Linked DNA regions of Homo sapiens. The protein of the gene in region 1 purifies or fractionates together with the protein of each later gene. This does not show direct contact. Each region holds a gene or a part of one and is shown in the gene's direction. Other genes may lie near its edges. The genes, in order: CLASRP, GAK, LUC7L2 and PUM2.

Region 1 (7,684 bases):
GGCCTGCCAGCCTGCCCACCTCTTGTTCCAGATAGAAAAGCTGAGGCCAGCCGGGCACGGTGGCTCATGCATATAATCTCAGCACTTTGGGAGGTTGAGGCGGTGGATCACCTGAGGTCGGGAGTTCGAGACCAGCCTGACCAATATGGAGAAACCCTGTCTGTACTAAAAGTACAAAATTAGCCAGGCACGGTGGCGCCTGCCTGTAATCCCAGCTACTGGGGAGGCTGAGGCAGGAGAATCGCTTGAACCTGGGAGGCGGAGGTTGCGGTGAGCCAAGATCGCGCCATTGCACTCCAGCCTGTGCAACAAGAGTGAAACTCTGTCTTAAAAAAATAAGAAAAGAAAAACTGAGGCCTAGGGAGGGAAGGAAGGAAGGGGACTTACAACCCACTGTCCCACAGCGAGTCAGGGACACGTGTCTCACTGCAGGGAAGATCAGGAAGGCTCTGGTACATTGTTGAGTCCCCCAGGCTGGGTGTTGGGGGTGCAGGAGAGCCCAGGTCATCCCAGCCCACACCTAACTTAAAATGAGCCACAGAGAGGCATGCAGTGGAGTGACCTGTGCAGTCAGAATGGCGTGTGGCACTCAGGAGCAGGTTATGGTTCTGAAGGGTCCAGCCAGAGGCCTCCAGAAACAGTGAGAATGGTGGTAGAGTGCCCAAGTACCAGGCCAGGCACTCACTCTGCCCGTGGTCCCATTTTACGGAAAAGGAAACTGAGGCACAGATGTGTTAAGTCCCTTGACCAAGGTCGTGTGTCCAAGGCTCTGCTGCAGTTGCTTGTGTCCCACCAGACATAGTTTGATTATCTGGAAGTGGTGACTGCCCCCCAAGGTGCACTGGGGTTGCACCTGTCTTCCTGCCCCACCGCACCCTTGTGTTCCCCCACTGAATTCCTAGTGTCCCCAACCCACTCTGACCTGGGGTCTCTTGTTTGCTGCAGTCTCAGAGGAGCAGTGCCTGTACCAGATCTACATTGATGAGTTGTACGGAGGCCTCCAGAGACCCAGCGAAGATGAGAAGAAGAAGTGAGTCGGGGTCTGGGGTGCAGGGGGTTGAGGAGGCAGGAGGGCTGGGAGCCCCAGCCAGGCATGGCCTCTTCCATCCTGTCCACCAGGGTCTCCCCGAAACCAAGGATGGTGTTCAGCACACAGTCAGTGCTCAATTAATAACTGTGTAGAGGAAGAAGCCCTGTCAGGGGGCCCCGGCTTGCCGAGGGCTCTGCGTTACATTTTCAGCTTGGGAAGTGGTGGGAGGTGCAGGCCCTGTGGTGAGACAGCCCTGGGTTTGAGTCCTGGCTGTGAGGCCCTGAGTGGGAATTGTCTGAGCCTTGCTGTGCTTCCCTGTAAAATGGGGCTGGCAGGAGGCCCTACTGCCTGGAGTTGGGAGGCATGCAGGAGATGGGGCTTGTGAAGTACCTATTCCAGCACCTGCCATGTAGTGAGCTTGCAGTCAGCCCTAGCTGATGTCACTCTGGAGAGAGGCTTCTTAAAGCCGCGTCCCTCAAGGAGTAGCTGGGGAGACCCGGGCCTTATCCTGGAGCAGCTGCCTCTGAGGAGCAGTGGCCGAGCAGTCTCACTTCTCTCTTCTCCACCTCAGTCTGATGAGTGCAGGCCTCCCGCCCTCACACACGCTATTCCCTCTGCAGGGCTTAGCTCTCCTCCAGGCCAGCTGCTGTTGCCCTGGTGCACGGTAGCCTGGAGCCCTGGCTCGGGGCTGGGCAGCTCCCTCAGTGACACCTTCCCTCCTGCTACCCCTGACTGCTTGCCGCCTTCCTCCACTGGGAGGGGTCCCATGGGACTGTACTGGGAGCTTCTTGGAGACTTCAGCCCTCGTCCACGGCCCCAGCCTCAGGATCCTGCTCAGGCCCTGCTCTGTTCAGGGCAAAGCTGGGGCACCTGGCTGCTCAGGAGGACTCTGGGCTGTGCCCTTGTGGGACTCATGGTCTAGGCGGGAGACAGACCTTCCCCAACAGAGATGACCCAACAAAGGCAGGGCTGGGGAGCTCAGGACAGTGCTGACCCACCCTAGGGTACCAGTCAAGGACTTCTTGGCAGGTGGGGCCCTAGAGCTCAGATGTGGAGGAAGAGGGAGGAGCTGGGTGTGGGCAGGAGCAGAGGGTCCTAGGCTGAGGGAGAGCCTGAGGGGAGGGGGCCGTGGCACTCGAGACTGGTGTGTGGGGCTAGCCTGGGGCCCTCATCTCCACTGGGCACGGCCCTGGCTTACCAGCTCCCCTTTCTCAGGCTGGCAGAGAAGAAGGCTTCCATCGGTTATACCTACGAGGACAGCACGGTGGCCGAGGTAGAGAAGGCGGCAGAAAAGCCAGAGGAGGAGGAGTCAGCGGCCGAGGAGGAGAGCAACTCGGACGAAGATGAGGTCATCCCCGACATCGGTGGGGTCCCCTCTCTGCCCTCCCCACCTGCAGTCCCTGGGCATCGTTTCTGTGTCTCGTCCCTCACCCTCTGTGGGGCACCCCGTGCTTACGAACCGTGTCTCTCTCCCTACCCCGCCCCAGGGCACACCAGCCTCCTGCTGCCCCTGTCTCACTCCTGTCCTCCTCCGTTCCGGCCTTCCTCTGCCTCACTCATCTCTCATTTCTAGGGTGCTATTTCTATGATCTTTTCCCCTCCTAGGTGTTGGCTCCATTCTCCTCCACTTGGGCCGGCCTCTCTCTGCCTTTGCCCCTCTCTCCTGCTCTCTTCCCTCCTCTGGAAAACAAGTGTTCATCCTCTTACAGAGTCAGCCCCCATCCGCCAGGCATCTGTTCACCCTCCTCTCTGCCATTCACCTCCCCTCTGGATTCCCACTGATCAAACCACCCCCAAGTCTCTCTGTTTTTCTCATCCTGGTTCTTACTCCAGCAACTGGCTCTTTTTATTTATTTATTTATTTATTTTTGAGATGGAGTCTTGCTCTGTTACCGGGCTGGAGTGCAGTGGCATGATCTTGGCTCACTGCAACCTCCACCTCCTGGGTTCAAGTGATTCTCCTGCCTCAGCTTCCCAAGTAGCTGAGACTAAAGGCACACGCCACCACGCCCAGCTAATTTTTGTACTTTTAGTAGAGACGGGGGTTTCACCATATTGGTCAGGCTGGTCTTGAACTCCTGACCTCGTGATCCACTTGCCTCGGCCTCCCAAAGTGCTGGGATTACAGACGTGAGCCACCGCGCTCAGCCCAGTAGCTGGCTCTTTATTCACACTCTGTGGAGCCACACATTGACCTCCGCCCAGCCCTCCTTCCTCTGGCTTATCACACGCCCTGCTTCCAAACACCTGTGACCCACACCCTGCCTGCCACCCACCGTGATCTCCAGCCGCCATCTTTCCGCCCCTGTTCAGTCCTCCCTCTCACGTCAACCCCACCACACGCCTCACTCATCCATTCCTCCCTCCCTCCATCCACCCATCCCTCCTTCCTTCCTTGCCTCCATTCCATTCATCCATCCATCCATCCCTGCATCCCTTCATCCATCCCTGCACCCATCCGTCCATCTCTCCCTTCTCTTTCCCTCCCTCCGTTCATCTGCCCCTTCAAGCCCTGTCCCCGAGCTGCCTCTGTCCACTGTGTGTTGTGCTCACCTCTGGCAAGCCCAGTGCCAGCCTAGGGCATGCCAAGATGAGCCAGACTTGATGCCATCCCTTCCTGAAGAATCCCTCAGTCTGGCGGGCGCCCCATCATCCCCGCCTCCTGGAGCACTGCCCCTTCTCCCCTGTCCTCTCGCTCGGCCGTGGCTCCTGACAGCCTTTCTCTTGGTGCAGACGTGGAGGTGGACGTGGATGAATTGAACCAGGAGCAGGTGGCAGATCTCAACAAACAGGCCACGACTTATGGCATGGCCGACGGTGACTTCGTCAGGTGAGGCCTGCCTGCTGACACCCCTACCCATTCTGTGGGCCCCACCCTGGCATCTCACTATTACTCCCGGTATTGACAGCCATCCTGTTTGTGAGCATTTGTGTGCCTGGCCCTGGGCCCAGGACTTTACACATGCAGGTCCCTGAGCCTATGGTGGTCGTGGCCCCACTTCATCTGTGCAGAAACAGGCTGCACCCAAGTCACCCAGCCTGCCCTACTTAGTGCGACCTGGGGCGAATCTGACTCTTCGAAGCTCTGGGGATTCCTAGGCTGGGGGACAGCGCCCTCTAGTGGAGAGGCTTCATTCCCTGGTTATTTATCCTGGCAGTTGCTGGTTGTACCTCTACCCTGAGCCACACCCCCTGCTGAGCTCACAAGACCACACAGAATGGTCCCAGCTCACTGGGCAGTGAACCAGAAACGGAGCCTGAGCATGGCACCCTCTGCCCAGAGCCCTTTGTGGCTCCCACCTCCCTCAGGAACATCCAGTGTCCTCACCATGGCCGAAAGGTCTTACCCATCTGGTCCTCTCAACCGCCACCATCCCCCGCTGCCCAGCCTGCACAGTCTCCTTGCTCCTCAAGTGCAGAGGCCTGGGCCAGCCCCTGGGCCACTCTGTCTGCTGTTCGCTTTGGACGTCTGCAGCTTGCTCCCCCAGGTTTTTCTCTAGATACCCTGTTTTGTGTGGCTTCCCTGAGCTCCCTCTTGAAAACTGCAGCTTCCTCTGCCTTTGCTCTACCATCTAATGGACCACACATTTTATTCCCTTGCTCATTATCTTCTCCCCTAGAATGTAAGCCCGTGCAGGTGAGGATTTCTGTTTTTTTTTTTCAGTGCTCAGTTCTTGATACCTAAGATAGCACCTGGCACACAGAGGGTGCTTGATAAGTGGCATTGAATGAAAGATACCTCAGGCTGGCGTGGGGTGACTCAGGTCCCTCACTTTCTCTGATGACTCAGTCTGTGTCCTCCTTACCCTGTGGCCTGCCCCATCCTCCACCCTAATTCTCACCCACCTCTATAGGATGCTCCGGAAAGACAAGGAGGAGGCAGAGGCCATCAAGCATGCCAAGGCTCTTGAGGAGGAGAAGGCCATGTACTCGGTGAGGTCTGGGCTGGAGTGGAAGGGGACAGGGGTGTGTCACAGGGAGGGCACCCCCTCACCAACCTGGCACCCACCCTACTCCAGGGACGCCGCTCTCGACGCCAGCGGAGAGAGTTTCGGGAGAAGCGGCTGAGGGGTCGCAAGATCAGCCCACCCAGGTAGGGCTTCTCCCTGAACCCCCACCCTGCTGGCATCTGGGGGAGGAGAGCAGGGGCTTAGGGCCTGAGAAAGCTCTTTGGAGGCAGGCATTTGACTTGAGAAAGGAGTCTTTCTAGTGGGGCGATGCATGGCCATCGTGAAGGTTTAGAGGTAGGAACGGCCTTGAGGGCCATGTGGACTCCTTTCCTTGCCAGCCCCTCCCCTCACCCTACTGGACTGGGGGCCCTTGCCAGACTCCCAGGAGCCCATGCACAGGCGGCATAAGGCTCTCACCAAGGCGGCAGAGAGGGCACAGGCTTTGCCCTGGACTCTCACCCAGTTCTGCTGCTTGGCTTCTTCCTGTGTCGGAGTTTGGACAAGTGACTTCCCGAACTCTCTGAGCTTCAATTTTTTCCTTTGGAAAACAAGGCATTATCACCTACCTGGAGAGAGGGCTGGGCAGTCCCCACAGGGAGGTCTTGGGACAGGTTTGGATGAGGCAGGCTGGCTTGGAGAGGAAAGCCCAGCCTGGGTCAGGAGGCCTTGAGGAGAGGCCCTGTGCAAACCCATGCCTCTTTTTGCCACATCTCTTAAAGGAGAGTGACTGAGAGTTCCTGTAAGGCTTAAACAACTTGTAGGTTCAGCGGTTGGTATCGGAAACATTCCTTAAAGAATAGCACCAATCGTCATTGCTGTCAGCGGTGGCACAGAGGCACACAGAGGGTAGTGCAGGAACGCCCAGGCTGGGTGGCCATAGGGCCTGGGTTTGGATCCCAGTTTCCTCCTTTATGAGCTACGTAATGCTGGACAAGTGACTTCACCTCTCTGGGCCTCAGTTTCCTCAGCTGTGATAGTCTCTCTTTTTTTTTTCTTCCCCCAGAGACAGGGTCTTATTCTGTCACCCAGGCTGGAGTGCAGTGGTGTAATCACGACTCACTGCAGCCTCAAATTCCTAGGCTTAGGCGATCCTCCTACCTCAGTCTCCTTAGTAGCTGAGATTACTGGTATGCGTCACCACGCCCAGCTAATTAAAATAAAAAATACTTAGTAGAGATGGGGTTTTGCGGTGTTGCCCAGGCTGGTCTCAAACTCCTGGGTTCAAGTGATCCTCCCACCTCAGCCTCCCAGAGTGCTGGGATTACAGGCGTGAGCCACCGCACCCAGCCTATTTTAATCTTATCATCATCATCATCATCATCATCATTAGTAAGCCCGGACCCAGTGAGAGCCAGAGACAAGGATTGGGAGGAGGGATGCTTTCATTCTAGGGTCAGGAGGCCAAGCAGAACCAGAGCTGCTGAAGTCCAAGTTCCTCAGAGTCATGATGGGTCTAGGACATTGTAGGGTGGGGCTTAAGTTCATGCTTTGGACAGATCTGAGGTGGGGGTGGGTGGAGGAATTAAGGGGAGGCCCCCAACCTGGTCAGCAGCCCCCTCACTGTGCCAGGTACCTAGCTTTGGGTCCTCAGGTTGGCGGGCTTATCCCAAATTCATGACTGCTGAGATCTTAAGCCCTAATTTGTCCCACCCCATTCTTTTCTCTGTAGCTATGCCCGCCGAGACAGCCCCACCTATGACCCCTATAAGCGGTAAGTTGCTCTGGAGGACCAGGGAATAGCAGACAGGGAGCCTCCTGATGGGGACAGGGGTGCTGAGGAGGGGATGGGAGGTTCACCCTGCTAGGCCACCCCAAGATCACAGACTGCATGATATGTTCTGGGTCTGAATCATTTTTGTGTTTTCCAGATCACTGTCTTGTTTTCCCAGTTTTAAATAAAATTTTTTTTTTGAGACGGAGTCTCGCTATGTCGCCCAGGCTGGAGTGCAGTGGCACGATCTTGGCTCACTACAAGCTCCGCCTCCCAGGTTCACGCCATTCTCCTGCCTCAGCCTCCTGAGTAGCTGGGACTACAGGTGCCCGCCACCAGGCCTGGCTAATTTTTTGTATTTTTAGTAGAGTTTAGTAGGGTTTCACCGTGTTAGCCAGGATGGTCTCAATCTCCTGACCTCGTGATCCACCCACCTCAGCCTCCCAAAGTGCTGGGATTACAGGCGTGAGCCACCACGCCCGGCCAATAAAATTTTCTTTATCTTTGAAGCTTCTTTATTTTATTTTTCTGATTTAAATACAGTGCAGCCTTGTGGTAAAAATGACCAAATATGGCAAAACAGTGTGACTGAGAAATCAAGTCACTTTAATCTCAATTTCCAGAAGTGGCCAGTGGGAAATAACGGGCACTCAGTAGCACCGCTGGGCACAGGTCGTTGTCTCGTGGATGAAAGAGTGGTTGGAGAAGGGATTTTGTGAGGGACCAAGCTCAGTCTGATCCCAGTCCCCCTCATCCAAGCTCCATAGCTCTCTGAAGCCCAGTTCCCTCTTCGGAATGGGGGTGGGAATGGGATCTTCCTCATGGGGCTGTGGGTCGAGGTTAGATGAGATAAGGTGTTGAATGGCTTCTGGGGAAATAAAAGGTGTAGGTTAGTGCTCCATACATGGGAGTGTCAGGAATATCAGATACTTTCTTTTTATTTTTAAAATTTTATATATTAAAAAACACGTTTGTTTTTTTTTTCTTTAAAAT
Region 2 (7,623 bases), on another chromosome or scaffold:
TATTATCTGCCTTCTTATATTCACTTTGGGTTTCATTTCCTCTTACTTTTCTAGTTTCCTTTTTTTTTTTTTTGTGACAGAGTCTCAGCTCACTGCAATCTCCACCTCCCGGGTTCAAGCAATTCTCTTGCCTCAGGCTCCCAAGTAGCCGGAACTACAGGCGTGCACAGGCATGCACTGCTACACCCAGCTAATTTTTGTATTTTTAGTAGAGATGGGGTTTCACCATGTTGGCCAGGGTGGTCTTAAACTTCCGACCTCAAGTGATCTGCCCACCTCAGCCTGCCAAAGTGAGCTACCGTGCCCAGCCAACTTTTCTAGTTTCATAAGGTGATTGCTGAGGTCACTGATTTGAGACTTAACATTTAATACTGTTTTAGCTGCATCCCACCAGTTTTAAATGCTGCATTTTCATTTTCATTCTGTTCAAAATACTTTCTAATTTCCTTTTTGATTTCTTCTTTGACCCATGAGTTATTTAAAAGTGAGTTGAAAAAATATACAAAAAACAAAAGTGAGTTATTCAGTTTCCAAATATTGAAAGGATTTTCCAATCTGTTACTGATTTCTACTTTAATATTCAATATCATTCTGGTCAGATAACATACTTGTTTAATAGAACAGAATATGATCAGGCTTAATGTTTTAATGCACTTGAAAAATTGTGTATTCTGCTGTTATTGTGGGGAGTGTTCCATAAACATTCATTAGGTCAAGTTGGCTGACAGTCATGTTCAAGTCGCCTATATCCTCAGTGATTTTCTGGGTATCTATCCTATCGTTTATTGAGAAAGAATATTCTCCAACTACAATTGTGATTTTTCTCTCTCCTTGCAGCTATTAGTTTATGCTTTGTGTATTTTAGAGCTTTGTTATTAGGTGCATAAATGTTTAGGATTATCAAGTCTTTTCGATGAATTCACCCCTTCTTCATTACAAAATGATCCTCTTAATCTCTTGCAATACTCTTTGCTATGAAATTTAGGAAATCAGTTATAGGGATTAAGACTATAACTTCAGTTTTGGATATATACATGTTTATACATGTAGCAGTATCTAAGAACAAACATCTGAGAGTTCAGATGAGATATGGAGATAGATATTTGGGTTAAGATGGTGTTACTATAGCATCTACTTCAATGCCAATAAATAAAGGTGCTCCAGAAATATTCGTAAGATAAGTAGTCTGACTCTGGTTTCCAAAGTGATTACAAGGTTTAGAAATGTCCAGCTGATCCCAGGTCATGCCAGTATAAGTTCATGGCCTCCAGATGAGTGCTTAAACGCTCTCATGCTTTCCAGTGAGTTATTTGCTAGGTTTCTCATAATAGCTATTTTAGATCTTTTTGACACTGCTTAAATCTTGGGTTTCCTACTTCCCCTCTCACTTTCAGTTGATGTTTTTCTTTCCTCATTCACAATGAAAACAGAAGTCATTAGAGAATTCCTTCACCTTCATTCCAATAAATACATAAGGTCACCTACAACTGCAGCCCATTTTTCTTCCTGAGTGTTTTTCCTATGTCCAAAGCAAATATCTCTACCTATGCTCTTGATGTCATTCCCCTCCTATGTTCTAAGAGATAGAAGATATCTCATTAAGATAGAATTATCTTATTATTCCTCTTTTTTCTGTACCAGCAAACCTTCTCTCCCTTCCATCCGCTTTAGGCTGCTCAAGAATCTCTCATCTTAAAACATCTCAATACTACATCACCCTTGTAGCTCCCTGGAGCTAAGGGTGCCGAATTTGTTGGCCTGAAGTTGTTCATATTCTCTTCCACAGACAAACATTTTGAGTTATCTCCACTTGCCATCTCTACCTCATCATCTCTTCATCCCTCTACGGTAATATGTAGCTTCCACCTCATTACTCCAATGAAGCTATTCTTGGTGAGGTCACCAATGATCCCTTGTGAATAAATCCAACACATATCTTCCATTTCTTTTTCTACTTGACTTTTAAGTGGCATTCGACACTCTTAGCTGCACTCTCTGCCCCGAACATCCTCGTTCCTTGGCTCTGTTACGACACTCTCTTGGTTTTCTTCCTCCTTCACTGACTGCTCTTTCTCCACAAACTGTCTATTCTCTGAAGATTCTAACCTCTTTATGTCTAGTACACCATCTCTGTTGGTCCTCTCTTCAGCTCCTAGAGCCAACTGCCACCTCTATGCTGAGGATGCCCAGATATCTGTCTCTAGCAGGGATTCTTTCCTGAGCTCTCTATCCTTCTATTCCACAGTCGACCAGACAAACGCACTGGCTGGAAAAGCCATGACTTGCGTTGAATTGCAGTTGTATCACTTGTTGGCCCTGGCCGAATAATGGCATTGTTGAGCATATTTTCTCATCCCAAAATAAAGGGGGTTAATTATACTGTGCTTTCTTCACAAAGATGTTTTCACTACAATGAACTATTACAGAAAAGGGTGTTGTAAGCAATAAATCAGTGCCTAAACTAAGCTATTGCTACTGTTATTTTTGTTATATATATTTTTAAAGATGTCATTTGGCTTCATGCAATACTTCATTCCATAACATAGATAAGTGTTCCAACGAGCTGAGGCTATTATCTTTTAATGATAAAGATAACAGATGTTAGCTTCTGGGACGGCTAAGAGGCTGATGTGAGCTTTAGAATCCATTTTTGAGTTGGAGAACAAATAACTCTGTTGAAGGGGTTGCAACCTTAAATGACTATAGGAACCAGGCAGGTAACATACATGAGCCCATCTGGTCAGGCAAATGACTGTGTCTTACCTCAAGGGACCACTCTAGGTAATTGGTAACACACATCATTTTGGGTCCAATATTGACAGGTTTGATTTTTCCACAGAAGCTGGAAAACTAGGTTTTTAACATTTAGGCCTTTCAATTATTATTATTATTATTATTTATTTTTTGAGGCGGAGTCTCAGGCTAGGGTACAGTGGCGCCCGCCTCCCGGGTTCAAGCGATTCTCCTGCCTCAGCCTCCCGAGTAGCTGGGATTACAGGCACCCGCCACCACGCTCGGCTAATTTTTGTATTTTTAGTAGAGACGGGGTTTCACCATGTTGACCAGGCTGGTCTGGAACTCCTGACCTCAGGTGATCCGCCTGCCTCGGCCTCCCAAAGCACTGGGATTACAGGTGTAAGCCACCGCGCCTGGCATCAGTCTTTAAATGATAGCAACTAATTCACCTCCTGCTACCCACTCCCAACCCCCAAATACTGTGTGGGCCAAAAACTAAAAATGCATTGTCTGTGAGCCATTTCCTTATTATCCTATAAGGAAAGTCACCATTTCATCTCCAAATAGTTGGGCATTACGAACCCTTCCAAGTGGTTCATGAGGATTTGCTTTTGCCTTGGAAAATGTCAGGGTGAGAACGAACCTTGAGGGTCACAGGGCAGTCTCTGCAGTGTTGTGGTTGCCCAGGACGAAGGTTTTTCTAGCCCACGGCTCCCACTACTGGTCACTGCCCCAGGCCAGACCCTGGCCCTCTCCTCGGAAGACAGAGCAATGCAGCAGCGTTTCCCCTGCAAACTGCCTGCCTGGCTGCTGGGAGGGGGCTGCCAACCTTACTCACTAAGCGTCACAGGAAACTCCGACCTCCATGAGACGAAAACCAAGTATTTACTGAAAGCTTAACGCACGCTAACTCCTTGCTCCTTAGCCAACTGAGAGAAAAATTCGCGAACCCATTCGCAAACGCGGCGCTAACAGCAAACGGGAGGCTGACTCCACCCAGAGGATGGCGAAGCGCTTAAACCGGAGACACCTGAGAAGGAGCCTCCCACAAAACAGACCATGTGGGGAACGGTACCGGGAGCTGGACTGGGGCGCTGAACTACCTGGGCGGGAATCGCCTCGGCGACTGTTCCGCGCGCCTCCGCTTGAGTCAGCCCGGCCGGGAGCTTGACAGCCGGAAGTTCATCGCAAGCCCGGCGACGCCGCGCACGCGCTGTCTCCGTCAGACCTCCGCGCCTGCGCGCGCAGCCAGGAAGTGAGGCCGCGGCGGAGGGGACGGGGCTAGGCCGGGTCGCCGCCTGACGCGACGCGTCCTCACGGGCGCCTACGTCACGGCGTCGAGGCGGAAGATGGTGCACCTCCGGGCCGGCGGTTGCTGAGCTGACCCGGACGGCGAGGGAGCGGGAGCCCGAGCCCGACCACTCCGGCTGCCGCGGGGTGCGGCGCAGCCACCGCCATGTCGCTGCTGCAGTCGGCGCTCGACTTCTTGGCGGGTCCAGGCTCCCTGGGCGGTGCTTCCGGCCGCGACCAGAGTGACTTCGTGGGGCAGACGGTGGAACTGGGCGAGCTGCGGCTGCGGGTGCGGCGGGTCCTGGCCGAAGGTGAGGCCCCGGGTCGGCAGCGCGGGTGCGGCCGCGGAGTGTTGTCTCCGGGACGCTGGGGGCAGCGTCAGCCCGGAGTGGAAGGGCGTGGGTTAGGGCTGGGGAGGGTCCCAGCGGGATCGTGGGTCAGGGTCGGCCAGGGGAGGGTCTCTGCCGAGGGCGTGGGTCAGGGCCAGGCGAAGGTCATAGCGCGGGCGTAGGTGAGTGCCTGCTGGCGGTGATTGCGGAGGGCGAGGCTGGGACCGGGTCGGGGTACTTTCTTGTCATAAGAGTAGGGTCAAGTCGGAGCAAGGCCTGGGGCTTGGGGAACCCCCTCAGGGTGGGTGGGGGAAGATGTTACGGTGAGGTGGGGGATGGTGGCAGGCAGGGAGCTTGGGTGGGGACCCACAGCGGAGACTGAGGGACGGTGCCTAGAAGGCCGACAGCTGGAGTCAGGAGGTGAGCGGTGCAGGAGGTGGGTTTAAGCCTTGGCCTTTTGCCGGACATCTGGGGTTATTGAGCAGGCAGGGACAGGACTGGACTTTGGAGGTTAGGGCTGGTTCTTCTACAGTCCAGGGAACTTGAGAGTTGGTGGGTGCACACGTGTTGCAGGTAGTTGCGGTTGTAGCCTGGGGGGTGGGGGGGTTGGCCGAGGGTAGACTGGGCTGTGTCTCGTGATCCCCCTTCGTCTTTCAACACCTCAGTGTTTCTCTTCCCGGTGAACATCTACTCGTGTGATTCCGTGTGTAGTACAGGAAGCAGAGCCAGTGGTTGTGACCTATATAGAACTTGCAGAGTGGACAGGTCACTCGGCTTAAGTCCTCTTGAGTCAGTCTTGAGTCAGTTTTGTCTCTGCATGCTATTTCTAGCTCCCTGGATGTCCTCTCCGTTCACACGGAATCGATCACCAGTGCCAGTGGGTCCCATTCTCTCTTGTGGATTTTCCTTACATTTTTTGTCCAGTGGTGCCTGGAGGTGTGTCATATTTCACTGGCTGTGAAGTTTATGGGCTAAACACAGTTGACTTGGGTGCGGAAGCGTAACTCTATTCTGCTGTATTGGCACAGGGAGAGGGAGTGAAGCGACACAAAAGCCCTCACCCTCACCAGCTCCCTGGTACCTCTCAGGGCTGGAGGGTTAGCCTGTCCAGGTGCCTGCTCTGTGACCAGACAGGAGACTATCCCAGAATTCTGATTATCACAAAAGGCCTGCGGAGACATTTTGACTGTAGCATTATCACACACTTTGTCTCCATTGTGGTCAAAACCAAACAGATTTTGGGTATGATTTGGTCAGAAAGTCTAAGCTCTTCTTTCAGAAGTGGGGGCTGAAGTGTGATATTCTTTCACATCAGTTGGAAGATTTCTCTCAGATCAAATCATTTATTCTGAAAATACTAGGTGGTTATCTTCATTCTTTAAGAAGTTTATTGTGGACAGGACTTGCTTTCTGGAACTTCAGACTTGTGCTCAAGGGGTGGAGAGACAGAGGCAGCACAGGGACAGATCCTTAGGGGTGGTACAGACAGTGTGAGCTTTGGGAAGGGGCCAAGCAGAAGATGGCACGGATCTTGGTGGGAGGGATGGAGAATGCACCCTCACTGGGGCCCGGAGAGGAAGATTCGTATAAAGAAAGAAGCTTGTGGGTCACTTAGCACCCAGGAAGAAGAACAAGGAAATGTGGGCAGCTGCTGAGGTTGTGCAAAAGAACTTGTTTCCCTTTGCTATCTAGGCAAGTCAGGAGATAAAAATAACCAATGCAATTAGGAGCTGTAGATTTCCTCCTTGTAAACTTAATAGGTGGCCTGCAGCCTCCTAAGTACTTTGAAGCCTCTTTGAACTGAAACAGAGTGTGAAAGCTGAATTAAGTATTTTATATAAACATACTTAATTAAGTTTTGTCTGAACAGCAACCTTAGAACATAGGCTATGGGAGTTTAGGCTGTCTTGTGTAAACATGGTGATGGCTGGTAATCTGAACCCTTGAGTACAGATGTTTACACTTCCAGAATTTTTCAGGTTTCAGAATGGTCATTGCAGCATATAACCTGTATATCGTGGGATACTCCCAGAAGACTTGGGAAAGTATTCTGTAATTGAATACATTAATATTTCTGTAATTAAATGAATAAATATTCTCACTGTGGGATAATTAAAGTCTGTAATTAACCCCATATCAGTTCATGTCAGGTTTTATCCCAAATGAGGTTATTATGATAGACCAGGATTTGCTGTCAAGTGAGTTAGGAAAAAATGGTTTTCATAGCTTTTAGGAATTTGGACTTGTGGTGTGAATGGGTTTTTAGGTAGAACTGTGGAACCAGATAGCTTTCTAATTTCTTCAAATTTGTTCTGTCATCTTCCTTTTTTTTTTTTTAATTTAAGAGACGAGGTCTTGCTGTTACTCAGGATGGATTTGAACTGGGCTCTGGATCTTCCTGCCTCGGCCTCCCGAGTAGCTGGGCTTACAGGCATGTGCTGCTGCACCTAGCTAGTCTTCACTTTTTTAAAAGGCAGATTATCAGGAGCACCAACCATGTCAGAGATGCCCAGGGCAGGTGTATGCTGTGTGTTCTTTGTTTTGGGTTCTGCGTGCCGTTGCTTCTGAAGTGGAGCCTGTGGTGCCCTGACTGCAGGGAAATCCACCTTCCCTGTGTGGCTGACTTGAACTCGGGGTTACTGCTAGTGAGATAAATTGAGGCAGAAAAGAAAACGATGCCGCACAGCCGTCGTATGGTTTAAGCGTAACCCGCCTCGTGCGTTTGGTTGGGTGTTGTATGTAATTTGAGCCAGCCCGCAGCCCTTGTGTGCCATGCGCAGTGTTAGCTGAGTGGCTGGGCCCGCTCAGGAGCCTTGGGGGTCAAGCTCTGGCCTAAGGAATGGGGAGGGCACAGCCTACTCCCACCCCCAGGGCCACTTGTGTGTGGTCCTGACTCTCCACCCTTCTTCCTCCTTGACATGGCTTTTGGAGGCTTCCTCCCTTCACTTACTTAGAATGTTCTGGGCCGGGCGCAGTGGCTCACGCCTGTGATCCCAGCACTTTGGGAGGCCGAGGCGGGTGGATTACCTGAGATCGGGAGTTCGAGATCAGCCTGGGCAACACGGGGAAACCCGTCTCTACTAAAAATACAAAATTAGCCGGGTGTGGTGACACATGCCTGTAGTCCCAGCTACTCAGGAGGCTGAGGCAGGAGAATCGCTTGAACCTGGGAGGTGGAGGATGCGGTGAGCCAAGATCACGCCATTGCACTCCAGCCTGGGCAACAAGAGTAAATCTCCGTCTCACCAAAAAAAAAAGAAAAGAAAAA
Region 3 (7,684 bases), on another chromosome or scaffold:
GTCTTTGGCACTAAGAGGTGGAAATGGGTATCCAGGAGGTGGGAGAGAGATGGAAAAGGTAGGTAGGAGGGTATTTAAGGCAACTCTGTCCTTTTTTTTTTTTTTTTTTAATTCCAGAGACTATAAAGCAGCGACTCTCTTTTTTGGAAGTGGGGTTCAAGGTGGCAGTGACCCCCTCCACTCTTAGTGTCCTGTCTGTGAAGGAATCTGAAGTGGCACAGAGTCCTGGGGCTTTGGGAAAACATTACCTCCTCACCCCCTCAAGGTTTCTTCCCCCTCCCCTTCCTGACAGTTTTTAATTAGTTCCTTTTAAAATTCATTGGAGATTTAAGTCTGTTAGTTAAATATACCTTAACTTGAATTACATAAAGTAGTTAATCATTTAGATTACCTAAACTTCACTGGAATCCTTAGGAGTAGGAATTTTGTTAGCAGGGAAATGGAGAGGTAATTTTGGATCACTGGGCACTTCAAGAAAGGACATTCCTGGGTGAGTGGTGGAAGTTGGGGGCTTTAGACAATCTGAGGGCAGCATGATGGTGCCGGGAGGCTGGGCAGGGGGACTGCCAGGAGGTGGGAGAGAAATGCATAAGGGAGGTGGGAGGGCCAAAGACAAACTCTGCCTTCTTTGCAATTTTGCCTAGGGCCCTGGTGGTGGCAACCGCCTGTGTGCCACTGAAAATCGTGCCGATGCCTGGCATACTGCATAAATGGAAGCAGGGTACCGCGTGAGTTGAAACATTGGTCACACTATATAAAGTTTGTATATGTGAATCAGTGTAACTCATACCCATATAACTGGGGGTCTGACTGTATTTGGATTTTTCTGATAAGGCATCATGGGCTAAGGAAAAGAGCACTGGGCTGAGACTCAGGAGACCTGGTTTCTAGCCCCAGCTGTACCTCTAATTGTAACCTTGGGTAAGTCACTTAACCTTTTTTGCCTCAAGTTAAATCTGTAATTTGTTATATGGGAAACCAAATAATTTCCTATGTTATACTCAGAAATGTTGAAAAATAAATATATTTTAAGTTTTTTTAGAAAGGAGCTATAAGTAGATAGTAATTACTAGTTTATTTTATCTTGTTTATGATTCATTACGTTTTATAAATATCTTTCTGTTTTAGTTGTTAGCAGAGGGGAGAGGGATAATTTGTTTTCCCTGAACATATTCATTCTATTTGAAAGCAGGGAGGAGTTGCACAGGAAAATCCAAGAAACAGTTTGAGAATTGTCTGTGTGACAGTTGGAAGAACCCAGTACCCTCACACAGACTGTGATTTTTGCTCAGTTGGATTAATTGCAAGGATGTTCCTTAGCTAAAGCCCCTTTGCCAACAAACACAGTTTGGTCATAAGTCTCTAGTCTTGATCCCAGGAAAGTCTGGGAAGATGCAAGCAATAAGAATTAAATAAAATTGAGGGTGTGGATTTAGATTACATCCTTTTTTTTTTTTTTTTTTTTTTTTTTTGAGACAGGGTCTCTGTTGCCCAGGCTGGAGTGCAGTGGCACGATCTCGGCTCACTGCTACAACCTCCACCTCCTGGGTTCGAGTGATTCTCCTGCCTCAGCCTCCCGAGTAGCTGGGATTACAGGTGGCTGCCACTACGTCTGGCTAATTTTTGTATTTTTAGTAGAGATGGGGTTTCTCCATGTTGGCCAGGATGGTCTCGAACTCCTGACCTCGGGTGATCCACCATGCCCAGCCTAGATTACATTTTAAGCTTAGAAATTAGGTAAGTTATAGAAGGTAGTTCTGAGGGTTCTGTATCTCTTAATTGCTTATACCTTTAAATGGGAGCAGAGACCACCTTCGAAAGATTAAAATAGGCAGGAATGGCAGCCTGCCCTCCAAAACAACAAGTAGACTAGGAATGTTAGATAGAATTTTATAGCATCATTAATTGTCCCTTATGGTTAGGGACTGTTTCGGGCAAGTTAAAACTTTCAATAATTTTAACTATTTTAAATGTTAATCTTTCTAAATTGTAGGATATACTTCCTCAGTTAACATATTAATCATAATATTTTTGCTGATCAGTTGTACAGTAGTTATAGTTTGTGGGATATAAAACTGAAAGGATACTCATCCTCATACCCAGGAAAATACTGTTAAGAAAGCCATTTACTTGTTGCTAATGTAAGGTTAGTAGTACATAACCGTGTAATCTGTAAGATAGTATGACATTTCTGCCTTTCTGCAAAATTACTGAATCAAAGTTTGAAGTAGTGCGTTCTTTAATGGATTTTATTTATAAAATCATCTTTACTGTAATCTGTGTTCCTTGACTTTTCATCAACATTGAAAACATTTTCTCTTAATTTTTTCTCATTAACATAATGAACCATATTCATTTCTTGGTCAGTTGTGAGCCATTCTTTTATTCCACTTGGATTGTTCATTTTAAGTGAAGGAGGCGGAGCCTTTAATGTATACGCAGACATTTTTTAAATAATAACAGGATATTTCTTAGTCTAGAGCTTGTAAATTCTTTAATATAAGGAGTTTTATAGGATTAAACAGTAGTTTCTCTGCGTTTCAGTTAACTATTTAACTTTATCAGAGTTTCAGGCATATCCAAAACACTGAAAGCACCTGCATAGTGAATCAATGAAAAAAGAAAAGTTTTCCTCATTTTGCATTTTGAACTCTGAATAATATTTCTATCTACACAGCAGCCCAGAAAACAATAAAAGTATCACTTCATATAACATTGCATCGTTCCTGGATTCTCTACAGTTGTTTAGTTCTCCTCAAGTAAGCATATGCTTCTGAGACATTCTTTTACTTCAGGTAAATATAAGCAAAACAAAGAAAAATCATTTTGTCTATTTCTGCATCAGTTCTATAAGGAGCAAGTAAATTCTTTTATTTTCGTTTAGGTTGGATGTTGTCATATAAGGATAGATGGTAGTGTTCAACGTGTTCAAGATGGGTAGTAGGAATTCAATGGCCATGAGGTGTCATGGATCAAGGTCAGGTTTAGTGAATCAGGTACTCTTCAGTAACAGGTGGTTCATACAAAGCATTGAAGCTTAAAGTTGCTGTGAGTTCAGCAAGCAGGAGGGTTGAGAAGACAGGCAGATGGTTTAAAACTAAAGGTCAATAAGTGGGCAAGACTAGTTAAATGAGGCAGATACTCCCCAAAGATGGAATTCCAGAAAGGTGCTTGAAAAGGACTGAATTCTTAAAGCCTACTGCTGTTAGTATGTAGAGTTCTTGAGGAAACAAGCAGTTTGGCATAACTTAATCTACTAAGAAACTATAAGAAGGTGAAGGAAGTTGGAACATCTTACTGGAAAAAGAATGAGGGAGTGAAGAGGGAATCTTGTGAATTCAAAACTTGCAGAAAAGCTATTCTGTTTCCTTTTTGTTTAGGTTCTCATGCACTAGCAGCTGCTAGAATAGATATTGGAAGGCAGGGCCAAAATAGGTCAGTTGTTCAGTTTTGCAAGATTATTGAGGATATAGAGAAATTAATTTGTGAAAACTCTGAAATCATCTGCAGCTCCATGTTTTTGTTTGAACTGAATAACTTAGGACTTTGAGAAGTCAAAGCCGTCAGAAAGTAACATGAAGTCCATTCAGCTGAATAAATGTCATATTTTGCTATTAGCATAGAAAAGAATCTTTAAAACTTCTTTCCAAAAAGCACTCAGTATTGACCCATATGTTCCAGTATAGTTGTGAACCATGTACAACTGATGTTTGACTTATTTGACTCAACATGAAAGGAATTTAACCAGCTGCCCTTGCTGAATCTTGTCTCCTGAATATGGTAAATGGTTTTTGTTTTTAATCTTAATACCTTAGATTTCTGCAGACCCCAGTTTTCTCTTTTAGAGTTAACTGATAATTATTGGATAGTATCTATAATATACCTGGCTGTTCTGTTCTGTACTGTGCTCTAGTATTAGTTTAAATGGTAGACTTTTCTCTTAAAGTAACTTTAATAGTTTAATAGTTAAAGTTACTTGAAGGTATGTTTTAGATCAGGGACTGGCACTATGGCCTCCTGCTTTTGGTAAATAAAGTTTTATTGGAACACATCCATGCCGATTCATATACATGATGTCTATGGCTGCTTTGGCTTACGACAGCAGAGCTGAATGGTTGCAACAGAGTCATATGGCCCGCAAACCGAAAACATTTACCATTTGACTCTAACAAAAGCTTGTTGATCACCATTCTGGTTTAGTTATTCTAAACCAAGTGTGGTCCTTGGAGCAGCAATTCAGCATCACCTCAGCATCACGTCGTATTGTTAGAAATATAAATTCTTGGACCCACCTACTGAGTCAGAAATTCTGGATATGGGCCCCAGCAATCCATGTTTTTAGAAACCTTCCAGGTGATTCTGATACACATTAAAAGTTTGAGAAACCCTCTTCTAGATCAGTGTTTCCCAAATGTTTGTCACACTTATTGCCTTTATTATTATTTATTTTTATTTTTTATTTTTTGGAGACAGAGTCTCTGTCTCCCAGGCGTGAAATGCAGTGGCCTGATCTTGGCTCACTGCAACCTCCGCCTCTCGAGTTCAGGCGATTACCCTAGCTTCCCGAGTGGCTGAGATGACAGGCATGCACTGTCATGCCCTGCTAATTTTTGTATTTTTAGTAGAGATGAGGTTTTGCCATGTTGGCCAGGCTGGTCTCAAACTCCTGACCTCAAGTGATCTACCTGCCTTGGCCTCCCAAAGTGCTGGTATTACAGGCGTGAACCACCATGCCTGGCCTTGCCTTTATTATTATTTACTGTTTTCTGTTTATTTAATATTTTCCTTTATGTCAACTCACTTTCTAAAAATTTTAAGTTAATTTTAAAATGAAAGTTTATACCACCATAAAAATAAATACAATGAAAACAAAATGGTGTATTATGTAACTAGACTCTTGTCACTTAGGGTTCCTGTGCTAAAAATTAGAAGTTGTTAAATTTATTAAACAAGTACTGTTGCAAAATGGGAACTTTTTTTCTTGACTTAATTGTGATTAATAATTTCCTTACTGAGTGGTATTTAAAATGTCTTGTTGGCAAAATCATGTAACACCTAAAGTCATCTTTTGTGCAAATCTCATACTTTGGAAATTACTGTTCCAGGGAGTATTCATGTGAAAGGAAAGCTGTTTGAACTATATATATACCTAAGCCTGTAAGCAGAAATGACTGGACAGAAATACAAGCCTGTGAGACAGAGAGATCTAGGAGATCCCTAGAGAGGTCCATCAAGACCTCCAGGATGAAATTACCTCATTTAGCTCAATTTCTCACCTCTCCGTTAGTGCTTTGGTCCACGGGGGTCAGTGTTTCTGCAGGATTTCACCAACTGGTTCCACAGTGGGAATGTGAAGAGGTACCTGGCTGTGGGAAAAGCTGCTTATCAAAGAGAGGCCTGATAGAAATGCTAGGGAAAGTGGCTGTGAGCCTGCATTATGGACGGGAGCAGAGCGGCAGGGCATGTTGCTAGGACTAAGCAGTCGATTCACGTGAGTCTGGACACCATGTATAAATATTTTGAAAACTTCCTGTTACAATTTAATTTACTCCATTGTGTTAGAGGGAGTGCTTCCCTGCACATGGTGTTCTGTATATTTATTGGTTGATGTGCTTTAGGGTATAGTAATTATTTATAGCAATAGATTGATACCCAGGTTGCAGAGTTGCTTTAGTTATATCTTTATTTCCTTTTCTTAGAGATTATAGACATAATTTGCTTCTGTCATCTTTTGACCAAAAATCTAATGGGAATGAAGAATTACACTTGAATGTTTATTTTTAAGTAATAAGTTCTGTGATAGTGATTATAGGTGTCTGCATTTAAAAAAATGTTTTAAAAAGTACAGAGGTCAAACAAGCATCTGTATGATTGAACAAATGTTATTTCGTATATTTCTGTCAAATTTTAAAAAATGGATAAAGAGGCCGGGCACTGTGGCTCACGCCTGTAATCCCAGCACTTTGGGAGGCCAAGGTGGGTGGATCACCTGAGGTCAGGAGTTCAAGACCAGCCTGGCCAACATGGTGAAACCTGTCTCTACTAAAAATATAAAAATTAGCCAGATGTGGTGGTGGGTGCCTGTAATCCCAGCCACCCGGGAGGCTGAGGTTGGAGAATTGTTTGAACCCAGGAGACGGAGGTTGCTGTGAGCCCACATGGTGCCAATGCACTCCAGCCTGGGCGACAGAGTGAGACACCGTCTCAAAAAAAAAAAAAAAGTAAAAAGTGCATAAAGCATTACAAATAAAGTCTTTTGTGGTCCCCTTCACCGTCTCAGTCCTTTCCCCAGAGGCAACCCTTTTTGTAAATTTGTTGCATATTCACTGTGAGGCAGTATTTCTGCTGTGTTGTTTAGTTTTAAGGCTCACGTCTCCTTCATGGTGATCTGTTTTTCATTTTAACTTCTTCCTTTATCATTGGGTTGTCTATCACCTCTGTCCCTTGATATTTTCATCTTTTTTTTTCTTTTTTATTTCTTTTCCTTTGGATTTGGGGAGGCTCTAGTTGGCTTCTGTAGCTATCACCAGCTGATGAGAACTTGTCTTTTTTAATAGATAAATCAGCCAGTTACTTTTTCTTTGATTATTTTCAGCTATTGCTTGATAGCCAAAGATAGCTTTCGTTACTTCTAATTTTGTATATAGAAAGTTCTGGATGATAGAAGGCACCGGCTATCCAGAGTGCAATTGTTACTATGTCAGAATTACAGCTCTGCAAGTAAGTATCAAAATATAAAATTTAGCAGGCTGTAACTTTTTATGCCATATATCTTAAAATAAATTCTATATAACCTATTTTAGGACTTAATGTTAAAGTAACTATTCAGGCTTTTCTGATGTCTCTTGTAAATTTAAGAAGAGGAATAGGCTGATAGATTTCCTAAAGCACATACCCCCCAAAACATGATAGCATTGGTCCCTGCCAGCTACCAAGACCCTTTGCTTGTATTAATATAATGAGAGAAGATAGGTGCAGGGCATGGAATAGAGCCTTGGAATGGAGATTCTTTAGTATTCCTGTTCTCACATTTTCATCATCACCATTCTGGTTAGCTTCAAAAGATCCTACAAGGTTTTTCTTCTACTAACAAGGCTGTTCCCCAGTTTCATTCTTATAATCTTGTGATATGGATTTTCACAGACAAGTGGGCCAGATTTTTAACATTTTAAAAACATTAATCTTTGATCATATCCAGCAAGAATGAACTTGTTCTGGAGATTTCTTCTACAGTGGGCATCACATTTTAAAAATGTTTGGCTTGTCATGGGGATTATGGTGGGGGGTGATACTGGTACCTATTTCTGATTATAAACTTATGGGACCATATGAACCAGAAGATTAAGAAGGATAGCTTTTCTGAGCTGTATAGCACCCTTGTGTTTACATTTTCTGGAGGAAAGGAAAGCTGCTTTGTTTTATTAGGAACGACTTGATGTCACATTTGGAAGGCAGACTGTCATAATTGTTTTTTCCCGTTGCCATCTTTGGCATAGTACTCTTTCTTCCCTTTCCTTATGTAATAAATATATGCCTGGAAAGTTTTACATAGATCAAGACATATTAAATGTTTTCAAAGCATCTGTATTATTATGTTAAGACATGGTGATGAGTCCTTTTGTAAAATGAACCCTATACTTTGGATGGTTTAAATATACAGTGGGTTAAACTGAGTGTATATATT
Region 4 (7,684 bases), on another chromosome or scaffold:
AAATTTACTAGTAATGTGGATATTTTATTAGCAGCGTGCTAATGCTTATTCTTGATCAGAATTACTGTATTTACTAAAAACAACCTATGCATGTGTGTCTTACAGGTGAAGTGTTTATCTGAGCACTGTTTATTATATTTGAGCTGAATTTAGCCTACTGTGTTTAAAGGCAATAAAATGTTCATGCTGCATTATCACTAATTTTACTGTAACTCTCACTTCTGCATAGTATTAACAAAATAAGACTTAAAAATTGATGTTGGAATGTATTTCAGTATAGTCTGTGTTTTTAAAAACTTCTTAAAGGACCAGACACAGTTGGGAGGCTGAGGCGGGAGGATCGCTGGCCCAGGAGTTAAAGACTAGGCTAGGCAACATAGTGAGGCCCTATTTCTGTAGAAAATAAAAATAAATTATCCGGACCTGGTGGCATGTACCTGTAGTCCCAGCCACTTAGGATGCTGAGGCGGGAGGATCATGTAAGCCCAGGAGTTTGAGGCAGCAGTGAGCTATGATTATGCCACTGTGCTCCAGCCTAGACAACAGAGCAAGACAGCACTCTTTAAGGGAAAAAAAAGTTGCCAATGCATGTTTTGCTGATAGTTGTAAGGTTATTGGGCCTCAGTTTTTTGTCGCTTTATAAGGCAGCCTTTCTAAACTGAGTTCCAGAAAAGAATAAAGCCTTATTACTGCTCTGAAGTATCCACAGTGTATATAGCTAACTTCTCTCCTGTGATTCCAGAGTGATGCTTGTTATATACCATCCTTAGGAGAATTAACAAAATACTTACTTAAATCATTTTCTGTGTTTTTGGTTCAACAGAGAATCTCCATTGAGAAAGGCTGCTAAGAAGTTAACTTTATTCTCCACTATTTGTGAAGATTACCTACCTTGTGCTTAAGGCTACAATAAAACTAAAGCCTGTGTGATTTTTAATTAAACTCTAGCTTGAGAATCTTCACAAATAGAATGTTTGGCTTAAGTTTTTAAAGAGATGATTACAAATGAAAATCTAACGGAATGCTGGTAATGAGGCACTTGATTTTGAACTTCAATGAAATTGCACAGTAAACATTTCGTACAGTGTTCTACCTCGCTACTCCCAGTTTTTTTAATCCTTCTTCTTCGAAGGGCTAAATGGTGATTTTTTTTTTCTAATATCAGCCCTTCCTTCATAGCCTGTAGTTTCTATATTAAGGAAAATACCTCTTCATTTTGTGGCCCCTGAGTAAAATTTAGAGAAAAAATGTTTAATGACAGTCTATTACTTTTTCATATATTTAGTAAGACCTTGTCAAATGTGTTGCTTTGCATATATTAACTAAGGATTTTATAGTAATGGTACAAATAGCTGTGTTGTCTAGTTGAAAAAATACAAATGCAGGGAAAAACAAATATGCATGTTTTTGTAATAAGTGCTTTCATTAGTAAACCTTTATTTTATTTAGGCTATCAAGTACTAGCTCCAACTGCCTATTATGATCAGACTGGTGCCTTAGTGGTTGGCCCTGGAGCAAGGACTGGCCTTGGAGCTCCAGTTCGGTTAATGGCTCCAACACCTGTTTTAATTAGTTCAGCAGCAGCACAAGCTGGTAAGTGTAACTGACATTTTTAGGATAATATTTTTCTGGTGTTGAGATACCATTTTTAAAATACAGAATTTTCTGGGTGGTTTAAAGAAGTATCTGAAATTTATTTTACAGCAGCAGCAGCAGCAGCTGGAGGAACTGCAAGTAGCCTTACAGGCAGCACAAATGGTCTGTTTCGGCCAATTGGCACTCAGCCACCACAGCAGCAGCAACAGCAGCCAAGCACTAATCTGCAATCTAATTCATTTTATGGAAGCAGTTCTTTGACTAATAGCTCCCAGAGTAGTTCTTTATTTTCTCATGGACCTGGTCAACCTGGAAGTACATCTCTTGGCTTTGGAAGTGGTAACTCTTTGGGTGCTGCTATAGGCTCAGCCCTCAGTGGATTTGGTTCATCAGGTAAGTTTGTTTTTACGATGAGTGTACTCTGCTAAGTGGAAGAGGTATATGAGTGTGTTTAACATTAAAATAAGCAATAATAGCATGTAGGATAGGAAGGACAGGAATAAAGTATTGGACTACTGGTTTAATTTGTAGGAAAAAAAAATCCTGCAAATCTTTTCAACACTCACCAATGTTTAACTCACTATAGGCAGCCTGTTCTTTACTCATATATAATACATTTCCTTTTTCCCTGGCTCTAGGAATTGATTACTGTAATTTTTGTTTTAGTAGGGTTTATTTGGGTCAATATATTATTCACTAATTATTAGCTCATCTTCATTCACTACATAATGTTTGTGGAGGCAAATATTTTGCCGTCTTAAATTTTTGGTATTTTAAAGCAGTTATCTTTGTGTCCTTATTAGATGGTTTATTCTTATTAAATGCTGGTAGTTTATTACAGTTTTTAAATTTGGCCTAATATAAAAAATACATATGTGTATGTATAAATACTGAAATGTTCTACACAGAATCCCCTAAGAAGCTACCAGTATGGTTATCTTTTAGATTAAATAAGTTAGCCTTTGTCACTAAAAATTCACTTAAAAGGGTATCTATTCATGTATCTTAGCTTTATATAACACTTAACAAATCAAAATTTTAAATAGCTTCACTAAATAATTGACCCACTCAAACTGGTTCCTGGATCCTGTGGTAGAGGAAGAACTAAGTGAAATCAGAAGAGGCCCACGTTGACTTCTTGTTGATACACTTGGTGTTTTCTGTGAGGTTTCCACAGTACTCAGGAAACATTAGGGAAAAAACAGCTGACCCAGTTCTATCGGTGCAGCTGGCAGCTTTTACTTCATGAGGATAGGACTATTTGGACCTCAAGAGATTTTCTGTTTCTATAACATAACTTGCTACAGTCCTTAATATCTGTTTCTGATCTCTTTTCTTACCACATCAAATTATATTCTTTTCTGGTGTGGAAAATGGCAGAACTAACACATGCCAGGCATTATTAACAATGCTTGCCAGTTTTCTAAGGGAGTGTCTTCTGAACTTTTATCATTCATATATACAGGAAGGATGGTCTAGAACAGCCACAAACTTTTAGATGGCAGAATCTTTTTTCATTTATTGTAATGAAATACAATAAGTGGATGTCATATTGGACTGACACAAAATTATCTGAAGACTGCTCATAAGAATTTCTGAGGGAAAATCCAGTGAACATGGGGATTGTTAAATCTTTTCAATTTTGTACTTGAGTTTTTTCATTGCTTTTGGAGTTGTGTATCTCTTTGTCCACCTCACGCACTCCCATAGGACTCATTCCTTGTTTCTAACACAATTGGGACATTTTCTCCAAAGAATCCTAAATATTCTGAGGAAAACTGGAAGAACAAGTAACATAAAAAACAAACTTGTGGAAATAGTTTTTAAATTATAAATTGTAGGCCCTAAATAATTCAGAAAAAAGAGAGCATTGATTAAACCCCATGTTTCCTTTCTCACGTAGTATGTCACTGATCGTCTGGTTCAGATTTCTAGGCCCCTACTCAATTCTTTCAAATTTCCATTTGTTTCTTAGTTAAGGCTGTTTTCCCCCTTTCAGGAATTGATTGACATGAACATTTTGTCCACTACAGATGCCCTGTTTCCCCAAAACTAACCTTCACACCTCCATTATTTACAAGCATGGCTTACTTAATTCTGACTCCAATCTGTAAGAGCTTCATTTTACCTTGCTTTAGAGAGCATTAGTGATTGCCACCCCTGAATGCCAGTAAAGAGTCCATCGTATCTCTCCTCTTGGGCATTTTGTGGGAGTTTTTTCAAGTGCTATATATATGGACTCTTACAAGTTTGCACACTGCCTTTTCACATTATGGCAATTACATACTTACATGAGCTCTAAAACATAATATGGTTGTGTGCCTGTATACACATATACAAGTAACATACACAGTCCTTCTCTTACCTCTATGATGAAATTATTAATGTTTAACAGTGTTAAATACCCCATTTTATGATATAGTTGGCCAAGAAGCCTAAACATCGTAACATATAATTTAAATCATCTTTTCTATGACCTGTTATTTTTTAAAGTGTTGTTACAATTGAAAGTTTATAATTTAGCCTTTTTTCACAGTCGATGAATGATTAGCAGTCTGTCTACCCTCTTAGATATTTTAGGTACACTTTGTTTCATATCTCATAGTCATACTGTTGGAGATAATTTAGACATATAGTAAAACTTAAAGAGCCAGCTTCTTTATATTTAAGGTTATTTCTGAATTATTTTTAAATGTTTGGCTTGACTTTTCCTTTTTGGAGGAAAATAATATTGCATGTGTCAAAACTGGTTTCTTGGATTATTTGTCAGGGGAATAATGCTGCTCTTATTAGAGCTGTTGTCTTTTCATTGTCAGTTAAATTGTTTTCTGAAATAAATAGGAATTTAAAATGTAGCCATATTTTAGAAAAATCACTTTGACAGTGTCCTTTTAAATTAGCATAGTTAATGTAGCATACATTGCCAGTTTTACCAAAACCAACTCAAGAATAACTGTTTATTACATGTGCTTATAATTCACTTTTGCAATAAAAATGCATATAGACACCTAGTATTTTCTTACTATGATATCTTAAAATGTAAAATCTTCAACAAAACATGATCAGTCTCAGAAACTGCATTGGCTGGTATAAAAGGTTGAATAGCATTATAATCTTTTGCCTAATGTGGTAGCATAAGCCTGGTTTTTTTACCCCTTTATAGAATTTTGAATTTGGCAAAACCAACGTAATTAAGTTTTCCGTCTGTATTATACTCTTACCTTGGTCTACCCATGATGTACTCTCCTTAATTTTTTTCTTTATACCCTGTATGACCTATTTATATATGACTTGTGCTTAAATAAGATTTAATAGAAACTTAGATCCCTTGAAAAGCATTGCCATATTGGTCCGAATATAGAGCTTGTCATTTAAAAATGTATTTGGCAGGTTCAGAAATGTGGTTTGAAATTTTCTTAGATGTAAAAGTTATTCAGTTAAAAGAGGCTAGTGCTTAGAAATAGGAAGGAAACGTACTTGAATATATGGGCTTTAAGTGAGACTTGAGAACTGAGAGTTTGGACAGCCCTTAGAGATGCATGCTGTGGAATTTGATTATCCAGACAGGTGTTGATTAACAGCCAGATCTTGATTAGCTCTTCTGAGCATGTATAGCTCACCAGGGCCTACATGACCTTTATTTTCTGCACTATAAAAGGAAAAAGGATTAGAAGGATAATAGTTACATTTGATATTAAGTAAAAATTTGGTATGCATTGTATTAAGGGATGTAAAGTAAGAGAAATTGTGTATTATCAAATGACAAAAACCTGATCAGCCTTGAGTAAGGGGCTCAGGAGGCAGTAGTACTAGCATCTTAGGAGTAGAAGAGTCCTGTGGGATAAGTGAAAGTATGTCTTTGGTTTGATAACAGTGAGAGCTATTAATTTTAGAAAAGTCGAGTTACTTTGTAATGTAGTTAAAGAACAAGGGAGAATGCGTAGTGTAAAAAATACTGTTGAGTTAGCTGCTCACTGTATTTCACAACTGATCAATATTCGGGCCAATATGGACTTAAAGGGCTATGTTTTGAACACAGCTAGATGACAAATTAAATATGAATGGTGAAGGAAATGTACTAATTATTTATTCATATAATCTTTTCTTGGCATTGAGTTAAAGTCTAAGAAGCAGGTTTCAGAGATTAGGATACTATCAGAATTTAAACTTAATGGAATTTAATCTCTAGCATGTCCTAATGCAGACAACTTGCAATTCCAGGGTTTATAAATCATACCAGGGTATTAAAGCACAGTAATCAGATGTGTCAGTGGTAAATATGTGTGAAATAATGAATCATATGACTGCTCTGTTAAGTATTTGGTTCTTTATTGGGGTGCATTTATACCCTTTTATGATTAATAAGTTAGTATATATAGTTATCACAGTAATTATCTTCTCCAAAATGTTTCTAAAAATAATTATTGTGATCACTTCTGTTATTGCCCAGCGAGAGTTGGGGATAGATTTTATTCAGTTAACACTGTATGTAATTAGGGTTTTTTTTATTTCTTCTTCAGTTGGCAGTTCTGCAAGTAGTAGTGCCACAAGGAGAGAGTCTCTATCTACTAGCTCTGACTTGTACAAAAGATCTAGTAGCAGCCTAGCACCCATAGGGCAACCATTTTACAATAGTCTGGGATTTTCCTCCTCTCCAAGTCCAATAGGCATGCCTCTGCCAAGCCAAACTCCAGGACATTCACTTACGCCACCGCCATCACTTTCATCACATGGATCCTCATCCAGTTTGCATTTAGGTAAAAAAAAAACCAAAACCCTTTTTATTTGTATGTATACATGTATGTGTGTTTGTGTGTGTGTTTATAATATATGTAAAATATTTAATGTTGGTTAAAACATGCCAAATTGCTTTTGCTTTTAGATATTAGTCTTTTGAAAAAGTTCTACTTTCCTGAAAATTCAAAGTGAGGGTCTAATGTACAATAAGGTAAAGACCCCCCTATTGTTTCTTATGTTTTTTTTATGAAATATAATGGTGTGTTTTTTCTTGTCTGTGCTTTTGATTTGTGTGTTTTAGAGCATCTGAAAAGTCAACTATATAAACATAATAGTGAAAGAGAAATTTCACTATCAAAAGATTTGCACACCATAAGAAAAACATTAGTTACATAGCTACTGAACTAGGTTAGTACACTGGTTTTTGCTTTGGTCTTTCTATGCCTGGCCATTTTACCAGATAATTATTTCAGTGAATTTGAATTTAGTGTATTTGTCACTTAAGGAAGCTTATAGGCTTGGGCCATATACTTCTTTTTTGGATATGTTAAAGAAAAAAAATGTTTTAGGCTTGTTGTACCCCTGAAGTTGGAGCATTGAGAACTTTGTTTATATTTGTATATTAAAATTGTTCCCACCCCCAAATTATTAAATTGGTGATTACCTTTTTTCCCTCTCCAGGAAGTATTTATCCATGTAGATAATACGTTTTGAAGGGCTTTGGATATCAGGGGCTGTGTATGAATCCCTATCTTGTCAAAGAAATTATTTTTTTAAAACTTTATTTTGAATTTTTATAATTCTAGTTATTCAGCTGAAACTGAGGGATTCTATTGCCAGCTTTTATGTAATTGGAAAGATTTAAATCAGCTTGTGTTTTAAAAAGTAATGTTGCTACTGTAAGCAGATGTACTGTAAGTTAGTGATTATGTTTGACCACCCCCTCCAATTACATGGGTATAGCTATTTAAAAGAAAAAAACAAAAACAAGCAAAAAAACTTACTAATACAATAAATGTCCATGTAACAAAGGTATCTGTTGCAGTGTTCATTTTGATTTACATTATTGCACACACACTGGGCTAGATTTCTTTTTTAAAGACTCTGGTCTTCCACCCCAAATTCTGGGCCTTTGCTCATTTGGGGTATTGATACTGAACATATACAGCCAATTAATGTATTCAAATGGAGCCCTAAGATCCACTTTGCAGTACTAGATGTGTAGATTTACCTATCTTTAGCCTAATACCTTTCTTCATTTATCATGTATTCTTAGTCGCAGGAGCTGCTCAGCTCCTGATTTCTGTTATTACTGCCCAGGCATCCTCCCTTCATAAGACATGCCTATGAA

What was found.
Region 2: the proteins of CLASRP (region 1) and GAK purify together in Homo sapiens (affinity purification with mass spectrometry; 2 studies listed by BioGRID and IntAct, with this or other methods). This does not show direct contact.
Region 3: the proteins of CLASRP (region 1) and LUC7L2 purify together in Homo sapiens (affinity purification with mass spectrometry; 4 studies listed by BioGRID and IntAct, with this or other methods). This does not show direct contact.
Region 4: the proteins of CLASRP (region 1) and PUM2 purify together in Homo sapiens (affinity purification with mass spectrometry; 2 studies listed by BioGRID and IntAct, with this or other methods). This does not show direct contact.

The regions. Positions count from the first base shown.
Region 1 is NC_000019.10:45,055,505-45,063,188, forward strand, and holds part of CLASRP (CLK4-associating serine/arginine rich protein), read left to right. Parts: intron 1-945; coding exon 946-1,030; intron 1,031-2,245; coding exon 2,246-2,394; intron 2,395-3,763; coding exon 3,764-3,860; intron 3,861-4,884; coding exon 4,885-4,963; intron 4,964-5,049; coding exon 5,050-5,123; intron 5,124-6,649; coding exon 6,650-6,691; intron 6,692-7,684. UniProt on the Homo sapiens protein: Probably functions as an alternative splicing regulator. May regulate the mRNA splicing of genes such as CLK1. May act by regulating members of the CLK kinase family.
Region 2 is NC_000004.12:928,757-936,379, reverse strand, and holds the start of GAK (cyclin-G-associated kinase), read left to right. Parts: upstream 1-4,063; 5' UTR 4,064-4,192; coding exon 4,193-4,337; intron 4,338-7,623. UniProt on the Homo sapiens protein: Associates with cyclin G and CDK5. Seems to act as an auxilin homolog that is involved in the uncoating of clathrin-coated vesicles by Hsc70 in non-neuronal cells. Expression oscillates slightly during the cell cycle, peaking at G1.
Region 3 is NC_000007.14:139,362,532-139,370,215, forward strand, and holds part of LUC7L2 (putative RNA-binding protein Luc7-like 2), read left to right. Parts: intron 1-7,684. UniProt on the Homo sapiens protein: May bind to RNA via its Arg/Ser-rich domain.
Region 4 is NC_000002.12:20,277,252-20,284,935, reverse strand, and holds part of PUM2 (pumilio homolog 2), read left to right. Parts: intron 1-1,449; coding exon 1,450-1,593; intron 1,594-1,704; coding exon 1,705-1,989; intron 1,990-6,116; coding exon 6,117-6,353; intron 6,354-6,478; coding exon of another isoform or gene 6,479-6,525; exon of another isoform or gene 6,526-6,634; coding exon of another isoform or gene 6,635-6,729; exon of another isoform or gene 6,730-7,684. UniProt on the Homo sapiens protein: Sequence-specific RNA-binding protein that acts as a post-transcriptional repressor by binding the 3'-UTR of mRNA targets.